2 separate regions of the Homo sapiens genome follow, and region 1 is linked to region 2. The links come from fine-mapping of genetic effects on gene expression. A gene starts in region 2. The other region holds a variant in brackets. All regions are shown on one strand. Distances are from middle to middle. Region 1 overlaps DOCK3 (dedicator of cytokinesis 3). Region 2 holds the start of RPL29 (ribosomal protein L29).

Region 1 (5,372 bases), 660 kb after region 2:
AGAGAAGGTTATGTAAAACAACAGCAGTGAAATACCATGGCTCCCTACATTCCAAGGGATGAGTCATACTGAATCACAGCCACGGCTCAGGGGCCTCATTACACAGTTTTCTCTCTGTTCTATTTGTTCATTTTTAGTGGGCATCTCCTACTGGCAAGTTAGTTAGTTCTAGCTTCTGTGCTTCTGCCTGGCTTTCAAGGCCCTACTCAAATCTACTCCCCATGACTATGAAGAATCTCATTTCTAACCATTTATTGACCCACTTCCAGTTTTAGCTAGGCCCACTTGCCTGTGTCCACTCTTTAGGCTCCTCCTCATCCTTGCCTTTTTGCCTGTGCCCTTGCCACTGGAACTTCCTGCCAAGGAATGTACACGCCTCCTCATGGGATCAGGAAGCCTTTTCTCTCTAGGGACAAGCCCTGTGGAACTCAGGGCCTCCCTCTGGAGCTTAGGAAACCATGGAACGTCTTTTTCTTCCTTGCCTATATTCTTTTCAGATGTCATTCCCTGAGCCATCAGAGACAAGGCTTAGCACTCTTTCTCTGTTAAAATCCCTGACCCAGCCTCTCAGTCATGGCCCCGTTTCCTAGGAGTTTAGCAAATGCTTCTACTGATACATAACATTTATCAAAGTCTTTCTCTTCAATGCCCTCTCAGAGGGTTGCTGGGATCATGGGTGCAAGTGGATGCAGAGAATGGTAGACTCAGCCCAGTCATTTTATTTTATTAGTCAGCTGAATTTAAGATTCAAAGCCCAGTCATTTTAGATTTAATTCTTGCCAAGCTATGCTATCAGATAAGATACCATCTATGCCAAACACTCTCTAACGGCTAGAGATAAAGAAGGAGGATTCTCTGTTTCTACAAATCTATCTAATTGCAGTAGCGTTTGCAGACAAGGATAGCTTAAATTTCCTGATCTATCACACAAATTCAAGTCCTATCGCCTAAGAGCTAAGACATAATGGCTGGTCACCACAGTGGAGAAAATGGCTCTTTGGGGGGAACGATGGCATAAGTCAATCAGATAGGACACACATGCATGCACGTAACCCCGATTCAGCGTGGTTCTCAGTAAACAGATGTGACAGCCACTTTGAAATGCTTTAAAATTTGTTCTAGTTAGAAAAGGCCTTGATATTGGATTAAATTGTAGATACAATGAAAGGAGCCCTATCTGGCCTGTCAAGAAGTCAGATGAACATTCTTTATACTCTACACTGAGTGCACAATGTGAGGCTGCTATGCAGTTGCAGGGTCTGAAGAGCCTAGCCTGCAAGGAAGGTCTGCTAGTGAGTTCTGGAAGTTCCAGGGTTAGGGGGATATTCCTTTGTTATAACCTTAGCTCCAGCTTTGAAAGTCCTAAAAAAGGCTCTCTGTTCATAAGGAGTGACAGTGAGCTCAGGATGCTCTGAACCTGGTGCACCAGAATTTGGAGGTCACCCTTGAGACTTCAGAGGGGTGGATAGGAGGGAAGAAGAGTGAAACAGACTCAAGTAGTGGATGACATGGCACAAAGGCACAAGTGGAAGTTCTGCCTGCTTTCTCTCTACCATGTGCCACAAAGGAGTTGAGGGAAATGAGTGAGGTGAGGGGATAGCACAAGCCCCAACATTCTGCTGAGATCTGGCAGGCACCAGCCTGAAGCCTTTCTCTGCCTATTGTACAAATCCCTTCAGTTTGTCCTCATGGTCAGGCATGGCTCTCTCTTCTCCCCACTTACCTGTGTAGTTTTCGGCCTGCAAGTGCATGTCACAAAGCTTATGGATGTAGCGGATATACATTTCTTCCTTGTTAATCTCAGATTTGTAAAAATTCTACAATAAAGAGAAGGAAACACCTGTCAACTACCTGTGGAAGCCATAGCCAAGCTCTGGGCAGCTGGCCATAGCCGTGGGTGTGCTGGGCAGGAGGGGGAGGGCAGGCCCTGGAGGCAGACAGCACCAGAAGGAGAAAGCACCAGCCAGAAGGAACACCTGCTGTGGGTGGAACCACTGGCAGGTCTATGGGAGCCCTGGGTAGTGTTAAGAGGAAAAGCATCAGGGCAGATCAGGAGTCAGGGTTGACTGTGAATTGGGTATGTCAGGGTTAGTGGGTCCTTGCCAAGAGGCCAGGCTAGAGTTCTATCCAAAGAGAAGCTCGTTTCATTCCTTCCCCAAGTAGGAATGTGTTTGGGGGAGTGCAGGCCTCTAAGATA[C/T]CAGTAACAGAGCTGATGTCCTGATTCAAACCCTTAGGCCTGCAGCCATGTATTGTAGAAGGGCCAAGCCAATCACAGTGCAGGACAGAAACCATTTCAGTAGGCAGAGAGAAGTCAGGGCCCATGTCCTCTCACCATCAGGTTAACAGTGCAGCCTATCTTCTTATTCTCTGTTTCCTCTCCTTTCATGCAGTCCCTGGAAGAGAGAGCACAGATGAGCACCAGATATGAAGTGGGGCCTTGAGACAACACATAGAACTGTACTATCACTGGGGCATTAGTATGACCAAATCCCAGATTGAGATGGCCTCCAACAGGAACTGCTTCCATAGATAAGGACTCTACTGTGAGCTCCTTTAGCTTTGGAACCACTCTCAGGGCTCAAAGATCTCTGTTCAACTGAGCCCCTTATTCTGGTGGCAGAGCACAGAGAGAGCCCAGAGCTACATCAGGGTATTAAGTGGCACCTACCAATGTCCTTGGCACAAAAGGGTATATGAATTAAGTGGAAGGCCAAATCCTCAACTTCCCAAAAAGGGAGGCACAGAATTCTCCTTAAAGGGCAGGTTTCATTTTGTAGGAGTGCTGAATAGAAGCCAAGACCCTCCACTTCAGGGCCCTAGCTTCAGGGCTCTGTACATGTTCACCACCTAGTTGACATTTCTCCCTATGGTTTCCTTCCTGTGTACTAGTGTTTGGAGCCATCTATCACCAGAAGCAGCAGGTCTCGTGCTTAAAGCATCAGCCAGGACTGAGCTGCATTCATACCTAGCAGGGTCTGGGTGTAGGAGGGGTCAGGGATGGCCTGTGAGAGATAGGAAAATAGGAACACTGAGAATGGATCTTTTCCAAGATAGGGAGAGGGTTGGTCAAAGCCAAGCTCCTCTGGAAAGGAGCAGAAGCCTGGCACAAGGAGATGAAGGAGAATGAGAACCAGACTGGTGAATCCAGCAAGACATCTCCTATGCCAGCCAGAGTGCCATCTGCCTGATGTGTCTCCTTCCATAGCAGCCCACACTGCTATGGAGAAGATCTAGTTTCTTGTGCAGCTGTGTATTAGCAGCTCTGGGGAAAAGCTGCAGAAAGGGGTTTATACAGATTTCTAGGGTCAGGTTGGAGAGTGTCTTTGGCTTTGCTCCACTGGCAGGCACAGGGCCCAGTGAAGAGCAGTACAGCTGGGAGTCAGGGTCCCTAGGCCAAGTCACTGAGCCTCTGGATGGTCATTTGACAAACCCAGTTCTCCCCACCTTCCCATCATGCAGAGGAAGAACCTTGGGATGACTTCTTTGAAAGAAAAGGATGTTGAAAATCCATACTCCTCTCATGATATTCTGCAAAGCCAAATGTCCTTCCTGTGGAAGTCTCCTGTCAGAGTTGATAGGTTTGAGAGGTTTGGAACCAAGGCCCTCCTTTCTAGGGGGGTTTGACCTATCAGCACATTCACCACGTAAGATATTTGGTTCCTATGTAGCCAGACATGAGGGTCCTGAACATCCCTCTGCAGAACCTGTCCCTTTAGCGCTAGCAGAGCCAGGAAACTGCTTGACTTTTCGAGGAGTGAGGCTGAGGTCAGATGGCCAAGTTGTTCCAAGCAACCCACACAATGGTAGAAGGCATCTGTCTCCCCAGTAAGTTGGCCCCATGAAGGGCAGTGAGATTTTACCTAGCCACTTTGGCATTTAGTGATTTGTATTTTCTATAAAGCATCTGAAACATTTACCACGGATTAACTTCTATTTGGCCATAACCAGAACTTCATAGCTAAGTCCCTTAAACAGAAAGGAACTGGCCTCAACACTGTGATACCAGGGGCATCCTACACACTTCTGTGCTCTATGACTGCTTCTCCTCTGCACTGCTGACAGCAGACTCTTTTTTTGTGTACCTCTGCATCACTTCTGTGTGGCTACTTCATGGTGGATGCCTTTTAAAGTCTGACTTAGGTGCAGCTGTTGCTTTCCTCTTGCTCTTTCTCTGAAGGGTGAGCAGGGAAGACTCCAGAAAGAGGCTTCTGAAGCATCCGGCTCACCTGAGTAGTGGGCTGGCTGGGGACTACATCAGTGACCAGGAAGCCCTCATTGCAACCTGAGAGGCCTGGGAAAGGAAGGCTTCATAACCCTCAGTTGCCCATTCCAGGTAGAGGTTCCACTCTGAGCCACAAGGGCTTGGCAACTCTAGCTCTGTCCCTGTCTGTTCCAGGCACAAAAAAAAAAACAAAAAAACCCTTCTAGGGCTCTGCTTCCTAACCTGGGAAATATAGTTACTACCAGTGAGAATCTTCATGTCTGACACAGAGTGTCTGAGATTCACACAAAAGTTAAAGACATTGATATAAAAGTTGAAGAGGTATTCCTCTGAGTACCTAAAGTTTTGCCAGTCTAAAATTGAGTCTTACATAACAGGTTCAGGTAATTCTAGAGTACAATCTATTGATTATTTGTTTAATCAATGTATGTATTTTAAAACTTTGAACAATTATTTTTTCCTTTTTGTTTGATGTCCTTCCCTTGAGTCATATCAACAACTATTTTCTTTTTCTTTTCTTTTCTTTTTTTTTTTTTTTGAGACAGGGTCTCATTTTGTCGCCCAAGCTGGAGTTCAGTGGCGCAATCTCAGCTCACTGCATCCTCGACCTCCCCGGCTAAAGTGATTCGCCCACCTCAGCCTCCAAAGTAGCTGGGACCACAGGTGCATGTCACCATGCCTGGCTACTTTTCCAATTTTTCATAGAGATGGGGTTTCGCCATATTGTCCAGGCTGGTCTCAAACTCCTGAGCTTAAGCAATTTGCCTGCCTTGGTCTCCCACAGTGCTGGGATTACAGGCTTGTGCCACTGTGCCTGGCCAACAACTCTTTTCTTAGTAAGTTCTTGAACTAACTGCATTGAGGCAGAGGAAAAGAGTTGCTTGGTTCCTGCATGGTCTTTCCAACAAGTTTATCACTCATTATTTACTATGCACCTGCCAGGAGCTGGCCCCCATACAGGGGAACAGGGAGATAAGGACAAGGTTCCTATCCTCAAGGAGCTGGTCCTCTTTTGTAAGGTAAGACAGAATGACAAATGATCATCATTCAATGTGTGCACGGAAAGGTAAGCTCCTGGCTTGGGAAAGCTTCCTTAATAGGGGTGAGTTGGAAGACCACTCTTGGGAGAGAACACAGCATACAGAGAAAC
Region 2 (5,372 bases):
ACCAGGTTCTCTACCTGTGCTCAGCACCCCACAGGGACTTTATTCCTGCAGAGACACTCTCCTCTGGGCTCAGCTGTTTCTTTCTTGGCACCAGATCATCCATCAGTATATAAGCCTGCTTTTCATTCTCCCAACTCACACCTGTCAGAATTCTCTCCCCTTTCTCAGGAATGCTTTGGTAATGAGTCATCCACATGTCCTGCCTCCACAACCTCCTTTCCGCTTCACTCCCTAAACCTCTGCAGTATGCGTCTGTCACTCCACGAACCTGGCTTGTCAAGGAACGTTCACTGGGCATGTGTTTATTAAGCTCTTGCTCTATCTACATTATGCTGAGTTAGGCAGTGGGAAAATGAAGGTGATCAAACCAGTCCCAAACTCTGGGCTCCTATGATAATGGACACATACACAACTAAGTAAACAATGCAATTAGAGTCTGGGAAAGTTCTATAAAGAAAGCAAACCATGGCCGGGCACGGTGGCTTACGCCTGTAATCCCAGCACTTTGGGAGGCCGAGGCGGGCAGACCACCTGAGGTCAGGAGTTCAACACCAGCCTGGCCAACATGGTGAAAACCCGTCTCTACTAAAAATAATTCTTTAAAAATTAGCTGGGAGTGGTGGTGTGCGCCCGTAATCCCAGCTACTCAGGAGGCTGAGGCAGGAGAATCGCTTGAACCCGGGAGGCAGAGGTTGCAGTGAGCTGAGATCGCACCACTGCACTCCAGCCTGGGAGACAGAGTGAGACTGTCTAAAAAAAAGAAAAAAAAAAAAAGAATAGAAAAGAAAGGAAACCATGAGAGGACACAGAATCACTGGTGAGATGAGGCAGTGGTTCTCTATTTTAGATAATGGAGTCCAGGGAGGCCTCTATAGGAAAGAGCACACCATCCAAAAAGCAGGGAGAAGGGCAGTCCAGGTGGCTGGGATAGCAAGTGCAAAGGTCCTGAGGCAGAACACACATTTGTGGTTGGCAGGAAAGAAAGGCAATGCGTTTGGAGAGAAGTAAATGACAGAGGTTGTCAGGGTCAAGTGGGTAAAGAATTGATCTTCAATGCAAGGGGATGTCCTTGCAGATTTAAGGGACAGGATCTGATTTGTATCTTAAAACAAGTCCCCAAGCCCCACTGCCGTGTGGAAAATGAACTATAGGGGGAAGAGGTGGAGAAGGCAACAGAGTTGTTAGAGGCAACAATTTCTCAATTCTGATGTCCAACAGGCATCTCACATTTAATGCATCCAACAAAAATATCTGGCTCATCATTCCCCCTCAAAACAAAACAAACAAAGCCCCTGCTCCCCACTCAATCTTCCATCTCTGTAAACAGCCCACCATTCACCCAGTTGTCAAGCCAAAGACATAGGGGCTATCCTTGCCTCCTTTTTCTCCCTCATCTTCTGTGTCCCAAGTCCAGTACTCTTTCTTTGTCCACTCCTCTGCATTCCCACTGTCCTCCCTCAGGTCCAGGCAGCCCTCTCTCCTTCCTCCCCTCTGCTCCTTCTCCACGAAAGAGTCAGGCGTGCTTTTCTTTTTTTTTTTTGAGACAGAGTCTCGCCCTGTAGCCCAGGCTGGAGTGCAATGGTGCGATCTTGGCTCACTGCAACCTCCACCTCCCAGATTCAAGCAATTCTCCTGCCTCAGCCTCCAGAGTAGCTGGGATTACAGGCACGTGCCACCACGCCCCGTGAATTTTTTTTTTTTTTTTTTTTTTTTTTTTGGATTTTTAGTAGAGATGGGGTTTCACCATGTTGTCCAGGCTGGTCTGGAACTCCTGACCTCGTGATCCGCCCACCTCAGCCTCCCAAAGTGCTGGGATTACAGGGGTGCTTTTAAGAACACAGATCGGCCAGGTGCGGTGGCTCACGCCTGTAATCCCAGCACTTTGGGGGACAGAGGCGAGCGGATCGCGAGGTCAGGAGTTCGAGACCAGCCTGGCCAACATGGTGAAACCCCGTCTCTACTAAAAATGTAAAAATTAGCCGGGCGTGGTGGTGGGCGCCTGTAATCCCAGCTACTCGGGAGGCTGAGGCAAGAGAATCGCTTGAAACCGGAAGGCGGAGGTTGCAGTGGGCCGAGATTGTGCCACTGCCCTCCAGCCTCGGTGGAAGAGCGAAACTCCGTCTCAAAAAAAAAAAAAAAGAAAAAGAACACAGATCTTCTTGCCCAACAACATCCCTCAAGGACTCCTTTCTTTTTCAGTATCTTGAATAAGACTTAAGAGACAGGTCCTGGAGAAACAGAGAAGGGAGGAGGCAGCCTGAAGGGGGCGGAGGCAAGCTCGTAGCACCGCCTCCACGTCTGGCTTGCGTTCTTCCGGGCTTCGGAACTTTTCTTCGCGGAGCCTGGGGAAGCTTTTCCAGTAGTACTTTCCGGCGTTGTTGACCCTATTTCCCGTGCTGCACCGCAGCCCCTTTCTCTTCCGGTTCTAGGCGCTTCGGGAGCCGCGGCTTATGGTGAGTGTTGGCCGCGCGGCATCCGATGCCATCCGCGACTTACGGGTGGCGGCGGGGCGCGGGCTGCGGAGAGGACTGGTGACCGACCGTGTGTCTGTCGGGAGCAAAAGCTGCGGGGTGGGAATGGTGCTTCTAGGTCCTAGGAGGGGGATGGCAGGGAAAGCCACTTTATTGGGGAATGCAGCTTTCCGGGGGTAAGGAGTTGATTTCAGGGCATCATTACCTGGGTTTGGGAGGCCAGGACTGGCGTTTGGTCGTGCAGAGTAAGCCGAGACTCGTGGAGGCTGCACATTCTCTGCCTGCAGGCTCATTCTGACCAGAATGGGGGGGGCAGAGGTGGCCCAGCCTGGCGAGCCCTTAACCCTGATCTCCACTTTTGTCTTCCAGGTGCAGACATGGCCAAGTCCAAGAACCACACCACACACAACCAGTGTAAGTTTTTTGGGCCCTGCCTACATCCCAGACCCTGGCAAGGACTGGTTCAGGCAAACTGGGACAGAGATGAAGGGGCACGTTTCCATTGTGGGCCTGAGGCTGATTGATTTCACCCAGTAATAACTTTAGGGTTTATAGGTTTAGAGATCTACTTGAGATACAGAGTGTTTTGCATTTAGTAGTAAGGGTTTCCCATATCTCAAGTGTAGCTGCTGTAGGAAGTGTTGGTTCTCCCAGACTTGCCAGCTGTGATGTTGGGTGGTCTTATTAGAGGAAAGTTCTTTGTTGGCTTAATTCCCTTTTTTTCTCCCACAGCCCGAAAATGGCACAGAAATGGTATCAAGAAACCCCGATCACAAAGATACGAATCTCTTAAGGGGGTGAGTGCACTGAATCACATGGAAGTGTCTTTTCTTGGTTCCAGGTGCACAGTCAAGGCCTCTCATGTAGTTTTTCTCTAGCTTTGGCTTCTGCCTGAGCACAGCCTAACTGGCCCACCCAAAGCCTGCAATTCCTTTTTCTACCCTACCAGACCCATAATAAAGCTTTCCTTGGTCTCCACAGCCTGAAGTGTAACCCTCTGGTCAGGGTGTAACCTGCCTCCTGAGGGCAGTTTGGCTATCTCCCTTGCTTGGCAGTGGCACTTAGGGTAAGGAGTGGCCTTGTCTGAGTGCGTGCAGGGCACATTCCCACACTGACCAGCCTTATGACCTCCATCTGACCCAGTGCTGGAGTTGGGGTCAGCTTCTCTTCCTGTGTCAGGGGGTTCTAAGGATTAGCTGAGAAGGCTGGAGGGTCTAGGGGAGAGCTGAGCATGTCCCCAGTCTGTTCCTTCCCTTTACTTTTGCTCTCTGTTCCGTGGAGTGAATCACAAACTCTGAGCCTCAGTTTCCCCATATCCCACCTTGGCTATAAGTCTTTTGGACCAGACTTGGTATTTAATTGACACCTTCTTCTAAAGAGGGGAGGGGGTGTCCCTGAGGGGATGTCAGGAAAAAACTTGGTCGAACCCCTGCTGTAGGAAGTTGAAGCCCCACAACCTTGGCAGACAGGGCAGCAAAGCAGCTTGTAATTTTGTTCTTGAAGGAGGTCTGCACAGCATTACCCAGGTGGCGTATTGGCTCCCTGGGGTGGTGGTACACTTTCTCTGGAAATAGTTTCAAGAGGTTGGGTATTTCCACATTTGAGGTTGACTTGATGCTGTCTTTAGAATGCTGGGTACCCCTATGGAGAGGGGCAGCAGGGAGAGACTTGGGGACCCACATGCTGCCACCTGTACCTTTCCTGCTTTTCAGGTGGACCCCAAGTTCCTGAGGAACATGCGCTTTGCCAAGAAGCACAACAAAAAGGGCCTAAAGAAGATGCAGGCCAACAATGCCAAGGCCATGAGTGCACGTGCCGAGGCTATCAAGGCCCTCGTAAAGCCCAAGGAGGTTAAGCCCAAGATCCCAAAGGGTGTCAGCCGCAAGCTCGATCGACTTGCCTACATTGCCCACCCCAAGCTTGGGAAGCGTGCTCGTGCCCGTATTGCCAAGGGGCTCAGGCTGTGCCGGCCAAAGGCCAAGGCCAAGGCCAAGGCCAAGGATCAAACCAAGGCCCAGGCTGCAGCCCCAGCTTCAGTTCCAGCTCAGGCTCCCAAACGTACCCAGGCCCCTACAAAGGCTTCAGAGTAGATATCTCTGCCAACATGAGGACAGAAGGACTGGTGCGACCCCCCACCCCCGCCCCTGGGCTACCATCTGCATGGGGCTGGGGTCCTCCTGTGCTATTTGTACAAATAAACCTGAGGCAGGATTTGTTAGCCTCTGTCTATGATCCTGGGGATGGGTTTGGTTGCTCCATCTGTTGGTGTGGGAGAAGACATGGGTCTGGATGGTGGGGTGTGGGTGGGAGTCAGGAGATGGGGCCCTGAAGTGCAAGAGGAGGACCTAATGAATGAGAAATGATTGGGGGCTTTTGGGAAGCTCGGGCACATAGCTTGCTGGACTGTGTAACCTGCCGAGCAAAGGGAGAAATTTTTTTTTTTTTTTTTGAGACAGAATCGTGCTCTGTCACCCAGGCTGGAGTGCAGTGGTGCCATCTCGGCTCACTGCAAGCTCCGCCTCCCAGGTTCACACCATTCTCCTGCCTCAGCCTCCCAAGTAGCTGGGACTACAGGTGCCTGCCACTACACCCGGCTAATTTTGTTTTTGTATTTTTAGTAGAGATGGGGTTTCACTGTGTTAGCCAGGATGGTCTTGATCTCCTGACCTTGTGATCTGCCTGCCTCGGCCTCCCAAAGTGCTGGGATTACAGGCGTGAGCCAGTGCTCCTGGCCCAAAGGGAGAAATCTTAAACATCCTCATGAGGTCTTAAAGCTTACTGCAAGGGAGGGGAAGGGGCCCCGCTGAGCAGCTCTGCACTCTGGCCTGAGGTGTCCCAGATTTGGGCTCTTTTGGTGCACCTGGTCAGCATCCACTGCTCTGGGCTATGTTAGTCCCCCAA

What was found. PIP is the estimated chance that this variant, and not a neighbour inherited with it, causes the effect.
Region 1: its variant is the best candidate, but not a certain one, in a credible set for the expression of RPL29 in whole blood (INTERVAL, PIP 0.79).

The regions. Positions count from the first base shown.
Region 1 is chr3:51,335,380-51,340,751 of GRCh38, reverse strand. It overlaps DOCK3 (dedicator of cytokinesis 3), which reads right to left. Exons shown (of 53, transcript NM_004947.5): 36 at 2,333-2,393; 37 at 1,724-1,817. Among named protein-coding and RNA genes, the nearest start is that of MANF, 47 kb to the left of the region's middle. RefSeq lists an enhancer at 1-883. The variant C/T (reference allele first, on the strand shown) is at 2,198.
Region 2 is chr3:51,992,938-51,998,309 of GRCh38, reverse strand. RPL29 (ribosomal protein L29) reads left to right here and starts at 2,415. Exons shown (of 4, transcript NM_000992.3): 1 at 2,415-2,453; 2 at 2,841-2,885; 3 at 3,204-3,268; 4 at 4,184-4,788. The coding sequence starts at 2,849. The coding sequence ends at 4,561. RefSeq lists enhancers at 2,311-2,470, 4,224-4,956.